Linked DNA regions of Homo sapiens. The protein of the gene in region 2 interacts with the protein of the main gene of each other region in a biochemical or structural test. Each region holds a gene or a part of one and is shown on either strand. Other genes may lie near its edges.

The links.
Region 1: the proteins of HHIP (region 2) and DHH are reported together in a solved structure, tested with the Homo sapiens proteins (one study listed by IntAct).

Annotation. Positions count from the first base shown.
Region 1 is NC_000012.12:49,092,787-49,096,695, forward strand, and holds the start of DHH (desert hedgehog protein preproprotein), read right to left. Parts: upstream 2,016-3,909; 5' UTR 1,727-2,015; coding exon 1,424-1,726; intron 1,403-1,423; exon of another isoform or gene 1,336-1,402; intron 633-1,335; exon of another isoform or gene 463-632; intron 131-462; exon of another isoform or gene 1-130.
Region 2 is NC_000004.12:144,643,859-144,647,767, reverse strand, and holds the start of HHIP (hedgehog-interacting protein precursor), read right to left. Parts: upstream 1,613-3,909; 5' UTR 1,093-1,612; coding exon 814-1,092; intron 1-813. UniProt on the Homo sapiens protein: Modulates hedgehog signaling in several cell types including brain and lung through direct interaction with members of the hedgehog family.

The DNA.
Region 1 (3,909 bases), on a different chromosome or scaffold from region 2:
GCCCCTCCTGAGCCTGTCCCTTGTTCTGCCCACTCTGCTGCAGGTGGCAACCAGAGGAAAGGGCCACAATGTTCCACGGCCAAGGAGGAAAGAAGGAATGCCCCTTTTCCCATCTCTAGGTAGGAGGAAGGCTTCAGGGCAGAAGCAAAAGGAATTATTTCTTCCCTGGACAGGTTTTCCTAACAAAGTAACCTGGAAAACTATGGCAATTAATCAGAGGAAATCCGTACCCCTCCCTCTCCCCCCACCTCCCCACTCCATACACAATTAGGTGGTGTAATGGAAAGTATATAGGGCTTAGAATCAGGAGTCCTGAATTCTAGTCCCAGCCATGCCACTTTAAATTGTGAGAGTTTAAATTGCTTTTCCTCCTGGGGGAAGTCCAGCTCTCAGATGTAAAATGAGGGTGGCAGTGGGGGTGGGGAGGGTTGGAGGAATGTCATCTCTCAAGTTTTCTTTCAGTTCTAACATTCAAGATCACTGGCCAGGCTGGATGAAGTGGCTCACACCTGTAATCCAGCACTTTGGGAGGCCGAGGTGGGAGGATCCCTTGAGCTCAGGAGTTCAAGACTAGCCTAGGCAACATGGCAAGACCCCGTCTCTACAAAAAATAAAAAATAAATCACTCGCCAGAGGTGGTCCTTCTCTTCCACCTCACTCTAGGTGGTTCCAATGCTCAAAAATGGTAGTTGAATTTATCCTAATTATGTAATTCCAAGGAAAGCCCCTGAGATAGGCAGAGCTTGGAAGACTTAGGAGCCCTCTGATTCTCAGGTGGGTCCATCTGTTATTCTCACTGAGGATTACTTTTTAACCCCAAGATTATCGTTTAGACCCTAGGATAGCCCTAGAATAGACCCTAGAATAGATGTGTCCTGGTTCTAGGACACGTTTCCCATGCCAAAAGCAATGTCTGCCCAGCCCCTCCTCAGGTAGATGGTCTGGTGACCTGACCCTTGGCCACCCCTGTCCCAGCCCTTTTCAGTCTCTTCTTTTCGGCCCACAGAGCTTTTCTACAATCAGGTCAGGAGCCAGGCTTCTGTCTGCTACCTAGCCAGCTCCTGGCCCCCAGCTCACCCCAGCCCTTCCTGCCTGGCTGGGTGGCTGACCCCCGGTCCACGCCTCAGCCATTTCCCGTCTCGCCTGCCGCCATCCTCCTTTCCCCGCCCTCGCTGCCTCTACCAGCTTCACTCTCACTAGTCAGTCCCTCCTCCCCTCCCCATCCCAGACTATTCTAGTCGGGAGCCGTCCTAATTACTCTGTCCAGACTGCAAGGATTTTTCCCCCCCCTGGGGCTGGTGACAAGGGAAATCTCTAAGGCTAAACTCTCTGTAGGTGAAGCTGGACTCACCCACCTGGGCTGCCATAGGAAAACGGAGGAGCTGGCAGTGCCCCGGCGCAGGTAGGGAGAGGCCCTCCTTACCTCGGTCATCAGGCGGTCGGCTCCACTGTTCTCCTCATCCTTGAAGATGATGTCGGGGTTGTAGTTGGGCACGAGGTCCCGGAAGCGCTCGGAGCCCCTTGCCACCCTCCCCTCCGCTGGCCCACTGGCGCCCAGGGTCCGCTCTGGCACGCCGGGCACAAATTGCTTGTAGAGTAGCGGCACGAGCTGCTTGCGCGCATAGCGGCGCCGGCCAACCGGCCCCCGGCCCGGCCCGCAGCTCTGGGCTGGCAGCGCCAGAAGTGCCAAGCAGCACAGGGGCAGTAGATTGGTCAGGAGAGCCATGGATACAGCGGACCTCGGCCAAAAGGGAGCGTTCTTGTCCTCACTAACTCTCCTGTCAGTTAGGCATCTCCACAGGCACCAGAGAGGGCAGCAGGCACAGCTGCCCCCAGAGTGCCCTAGAGCTCTTGTGGCTCCGTGCACCTGGCTGCTGCTAGCTCTGCCCACGTGCCCCGGGAGCGGGCGGGGGGTGTCTAGGACCTGCTACTGACAAACCATCATAGCAGGGAAGGGGGGTCGTGGGTGAGTGCCAGCCCAGCCCGTCTCTGCTGCAGGACTCTGGTGCTGCCAGAACGCCCGGACTCCGGACTCCGCCTTAAGTGGCCCCTGGCCCCGCCCTCCGCCCTTCTCCCAAGACCGTCCCACCCCCTCCCACCCGGGCGGGGGATCTAGCCGGTCACTGCTGGTCCATTTTGCGACTGAAGTGTGTCCCATCCTGGAAACCAGGCAGACACCTGCCTAGGAAATACTTGTAGCTTTACAGTCCTTGGCTGCCTAAACATCCTTCTACCTCCAAGCTTAAACTTGGAACCAAACCACCCTCCTCTGATACTTGAATTGGAATTTTTACTCTCTCAAAGCCTACCCTGGCAGGCCATGCCCTCCGCTGTCATCCAGGAAGTATGGGTTCCAATTTCTGCCCAAGACCAGCCAAGCCCTTTGGGCATACAACCAGAGCCTCCCTTCTCTGTAGTCCTCCCCAGATCTCCCCGACTTCCATCTCTCCTCACATTCAGCATTAAGCAGGACTGGGAGGTGAGGATACCAGGGGCCCATTTCTCTACTAACTTTGCAGTCTCCTTTGGAACTTCCCCAGAACCAGGAACAGAGCTTGGTACTTATTGTCTCATTTAGGACTTCCAACTTTTTTCCCCTTCTCTTCTTTGCCAGGCATCTAATAGCTGCTGTTTTTCAAATGAATGACTTCTCAGTTGGAAGCTGCTGAAGGGCAGTGGACACTCAAAAGTCTTTGTAAGAGGTGAGGATCACTTCCCTTAACCGTCCATCTAGGCACCTCTCCAGCTTTCTCCCTCTCTGGACTCCCGGGGCTCCATTTTCAGCCACTCAGATCTCATCTCAGAGGCACCACGTCCAATTTCTTTTGTTTAGAAGTCATTTCTTCTAAGAAGCCTTCCTTGATGTCCCAACACTGCCCACCTGTGTTCCCTCGAGAACCATTACTTAACTGCAGTGTTAGAACAGTATTAGAATTATCTGGCACCTTACTAGACAAAGCAATCTTAAGCACACACATATTTATCATGTATCTCCAAGGTTAAGTGCCTACTCTACAGAAGGGTGCTTTGCAAGCATTTGTGGAATCTACACTTTGTGTTTCATATTCACCCTCCCCTCACCACACTCTATGGCTAGTACTCATAGCAACTTTGTGTACATCAGAAAAAACCAGGCCAGGCACAGTGGCTCACTCCTGTAATCCCAACACTTTGGGGGCGAGGCAAGGACTGCTTGAGGCCATGAGTTGAAGACCAACTTGGTCAACATAGTGACACCCCGTTTCAAAAAAAAAAAATTAATTAGTGGGAGGTAGTGGTACATGCCTGTAGTCTTAGGTACTCAGGAGGCTGAGGAAGGAGGATCACTTGGGTGCAAGAGTTCAAGGCTGTAGAGTGAGCTAAGATCATGCCACTGCACTCTAACCTGGGTGACAGAGTGAGGACCCCCCCCCCCAAAAAAAAGATGGCTGGGTGTTGTGGCTAACCCCTGTAATTCCATCATTTGGGGAGTCCAAGGTAGGTGGATCACTTGAGCTCAGGAGTTCAAGACCAGCCCAGGCAACATGGCAAAACCCCATCTCTACTAAAAATACAAAAATTAGCCAGGCATGGTAGCATGTGTCTGTTGTCCTAGCTATTCTGGAGCCTGAGCTGGAAGAATGGCTTGAGCCCAGAATGCGGAGGTTGCAGTGAGCTGAGATTGCACCACTGCACTCCAGCCAGGGTGATAGAGCCAGACCTTGTCTCACAAAAAAAAAAAAAAAAAAAAGAAGAAGAAAAAAGAAAAAAAAAGCACCCCTTCCTCAAGATGACTGACATTTATTAGAAAACTATCATAGTAACTATCCACACAATGACTATGAGGTGAATGGTGTCCCTGGAAGCTGTGCAATACACAATCTGTATAAGCCTAAGTTTTGCGCTCTTACTCCCAACATAGCACATGGG
Region 2 (3,909 bases):
CTCCTGGCAAGAACGATATTGCAAACTCAAAAACAAGCGTGCCTTTACAGTCAACAAACACCATGTTAGTATTTAAACTTATTAACACAAGGATAACGTAAATGCCATTACTCTTAAAACAAATTCTTAGAGTAGATCTTCCAAGACACCAACTGACCCTGAAAGTCTGAATTTATAATGTTACAAAATGACGGAGAATCGTCTCAGTTTTATGTGATAAATAACGCCCCAGCAAAATCTTTCGCCAGTTTTTTTCAGGTCCCTAACCGGAGGACCAGGAGTTCCTTTCTGTTGGTTTAACTAATGTAATGCAAGACACCCCCCTCTGACGGGGCTGGGGATCATAAACCAACCATGCTTCAACATCCTTTACGATTCAATCCTCTCCCTAACCGAGCACGTGGAGAAAACAGCACAAATCTTTTTACCCTAGAAAAATAAGCCGGAAACCACAGCCACCTTAATTTACAGTTTCACCGCAGCCAATGCCCCATTCGATCCAAAACACACTGTTCATCGCGATTCTTTTAAAATATTTACCCAGCCCAGGGTGCGGGTACCGCAGAAACGTCTGTTTTCAGAGATAGGCAAGTTTGCACAGCATCCCGACCGCGGACTCTGGGGGAGGAAATGCTACTTGCTTACCCCAGAGGAACACACAACGGAATCACGTTAGCGCTATAGAAAAGTTATGGAAAGAACTCCCCCAAAGAAGTTTTGACCTTCTTACAACCACCGGCTTTGCCAGAGCCACAGGGAACCCCACCCAGCCAATATGCCAAGTACGCATCCGTGAAGCCGGTGAGTGCCTACCTTATTCTCCAGGCGCCCTAGCCCCGGGCTGTCACTCCGCAGGCAGCAGGACAGCCGAGGGTAGAAGCCACCGCACAGCATCTCTCCCCCACTCAGCAGCTCCAGCTGGGACATCATCCTCCTGTCTCTCCTTTTCAGGCGCTTCGGGGGGTTCCCATTCAGGCACCTTCTCCTCCTTGCTCCGCTCCCTTCGTTTCTTTCCCCAAACTTAGCATCTCCTTCAAAGAAGCCCAGAGCCACGGCCAGCAGCAGCAGCTTAAAGGAGAGCATCTTCAGCATCGTCTGCCCAGAGCAGCAGGGGCTGGGCGCGGGAGGATGGGGGGGAACGCCACTGCCCAGCAGGGGCACTAGGGCGCAGCTCCAGGAGGAGTTTGCGGGGCTGTAGGGCACTCCAGAGACAGAGGGAGGTGGCGGGGACAAAAATATGTACAGCGATGCAACTTTGCAAAAAATAAAAGACGCGGCGATGGGTCCAATGCCTTAGGGGAGCCCGAGGAGCGAGATAAAGTTGTGCGGATGACACCGTTTGCAGTTGTGCCAGTGTCAGTTGGGTTGGGGGCTTTCTGCTGCGGCTGGGAAGTGGGAGGAGGAGAAGGAGTTGGAAGAGGAGGAAGAAAAGGAGAGGACAGCCACAGATGTTCACTTGTCCGTGTAACGGGAGTTGTTTAGGTGGGACAGTAGCAGGAACAGAAACGGCGACGGCGGCGGCGGGGCAGGCGGAGGCAGGGCCAGCGCTGGGCTCTAGATGATGCTGAGGTCTCCTCTGCCGGCGGCTGCAGCTTCTCACACAGCCTCTCATGTTTCGTTCCCTCTTTTCTTCTTCTTTTTAACTAGCGCGCGGGGAGGTGCTGCCACAGCGCGCCCCTTGACGTCACCGCTTCTCGCGCGCCCCCGCCCAGGGTGGAGGGAAGGGGAGGGGGCGGCCCCCGCGCGAGCGCGTCCCCCGGGCCCCGGCGGCCTCCCTGCTGCGGCGGGGAGGGGCGGCTAGCCGCGACGGCGGCGGACGGAGGGGGAGGGCCGCGAGCCTTCGGAACCAGCCTCGAGGGTGCTGAACCCCGCGCGCCCGCCTCGCCGCGGCCCCCGGGTGGGGGCGTCCACGGCCCGGGTTCCCGGCGGGCTTGGGGCAGGGACGCAGTCCGGAGATTCCGGGACTGCCCGGCTGCTGCAGCCCGCAGGCTCCTCTCTCCTCCCCGCTTCCCCTCCGCACTGCCTGGGCTAAAGGCGGCCAAGCTGAGGCTCCGAAAGAAAGTAAGTAAGAGTGGGCCGTAGGAGGTGGGAAGGGAGGGACCCCTTCCAGGGCCATCCCCACCTCAGCCCCCCGGCCCGCCCCTCGCCCCGTGGGAGGGTGAACTAAGTGGGCTGGAGCGGACGGGAGGGAGCTTTTGGGCCCCTTTGTCTCCCCCAGCCGCACTGACACCCCCATTTTCCACACTGATTTTCAACGTGAAGCTCAAGTCCTCAAAGATCTTTCTTGGGGTCTGACTTAGAGGCAGGGGGACATCCCAGATGCCGTTGAGTAGGCTGAGATGGTTTGGAGACTCATCCTCGCCGGAGGTCCTGCAAGCCACTGAAGTGGCACAGACGCGTGTGCGCGGAGTGGGGCGGTGTGTCGGGCCACAGGCCAAGCCCAAGTCGGCCTCCCAGAGTGTTTGCCACGGTTTGGGCGGGTTAGTCCCCGACGCCCCTTTCAGGTCCCCACATGTGTTCGGGAATAAGCCGGGCCCCGCTGGTACCATCTGGGAACACAAGTTCTTGGGCCGCAGGTGGACGGAGAGAGAAGCTGGGCGCGGAATTAGTGTTCGTTTTAACACACACAAACACACACACACACACACACACACACACACCTGCACGCACGCGCGCGCAGTCCCTGGGGAGAGGTTCCCCTGGGTGTAGAAACAGAGGCGTTAGATCTGGAGAAAGAATTAGATGCAAGTCTGAGGGCATCCAGAAGCGCTGTGCTCTACTTATCCCCGTGTATACAAGTAAATTAACCTTTTCCCCAGCTAGACAAAGTCTGTGTAAATAGTGTGTCTAAAAAGATGTCTACGTTATCAGGAGCGGTGACTTGAGGTTTACTGGATCCCTGCAAGTTGGCATCAGGACGAGCTTCTATAGGGTTGCCCACAAAATGCGCTTCTAGCCCACTTGGGTATTTAACAGAGAAGCTGATTTCCCAGAAGATGGGCTTTGATGAGGAGATAAGGCAGTTGTCCCATTTTGGCAATGGAGGAATGTTCACCACATTTGGGTTTGCTTCACTTGTTGGACATTGATTTCGCCAAGTGATTGCAAAAGTTGGTGATGGTTGAGGTGGGCAGTTGATTAAATTAATCACTTCTGGTCACAGTGGCTAGGTAAGGCTTCTGTCTTTTTCACTTCCTGAGCCTGGATATTAGTGAAGTTAGGTTTTTCCCCAAAGAGATGACACATCAGAATAACTGAAAAGAATCTGCTAGGATGTTTGGCCCAGTCCTCAGCTAAATGTAGAGCCCCCATGACATATTTAACATTTTCCCCAGGGGCTGTTGTATACACATGACTTCTTCATGCATGTGATTGTAAGTCCACTTTGGATCTCACATACTTTTTTTTATCTGACATTCTTTCTGCTTTGAGGACTTTTAATATAAAATTAATCAGAAAGCAGTAAGCACTTTAAGACTTTAAACTCATTAATAGATCTCCAGATGAATCTCATCAAATTTAAATCACTTGCACAATTTCATCTCATTAGGTAGTTTGAGAATAAGGACTCGGATCCAATCTGGGGTGCTTTCCACTATCTAACCCTTTCTTCCCAAATTCCAGTTTTATATTCTTTTTCCAAAATAAAAGTCCTTCTAAAATCGTATTTCAGTAGTTTGAGCTCCTACTCTGATAAATTCCTGTTAGTAGTTTTGAAACAGGCCTTTCTTATGGCTTATACTAAGGCCACTTAAAGGTAAATTTATTTTGGTTTTAAAATACTATGCATCTGTTATAACCTACGACCCTAAGATATAGAAAGTTTATAAAAGATTACTGAAATAAGACATGCTTGTTATTTCTTGATATATGGAAATTAGAATTGATTTCATATACTGTTTGTCCTGA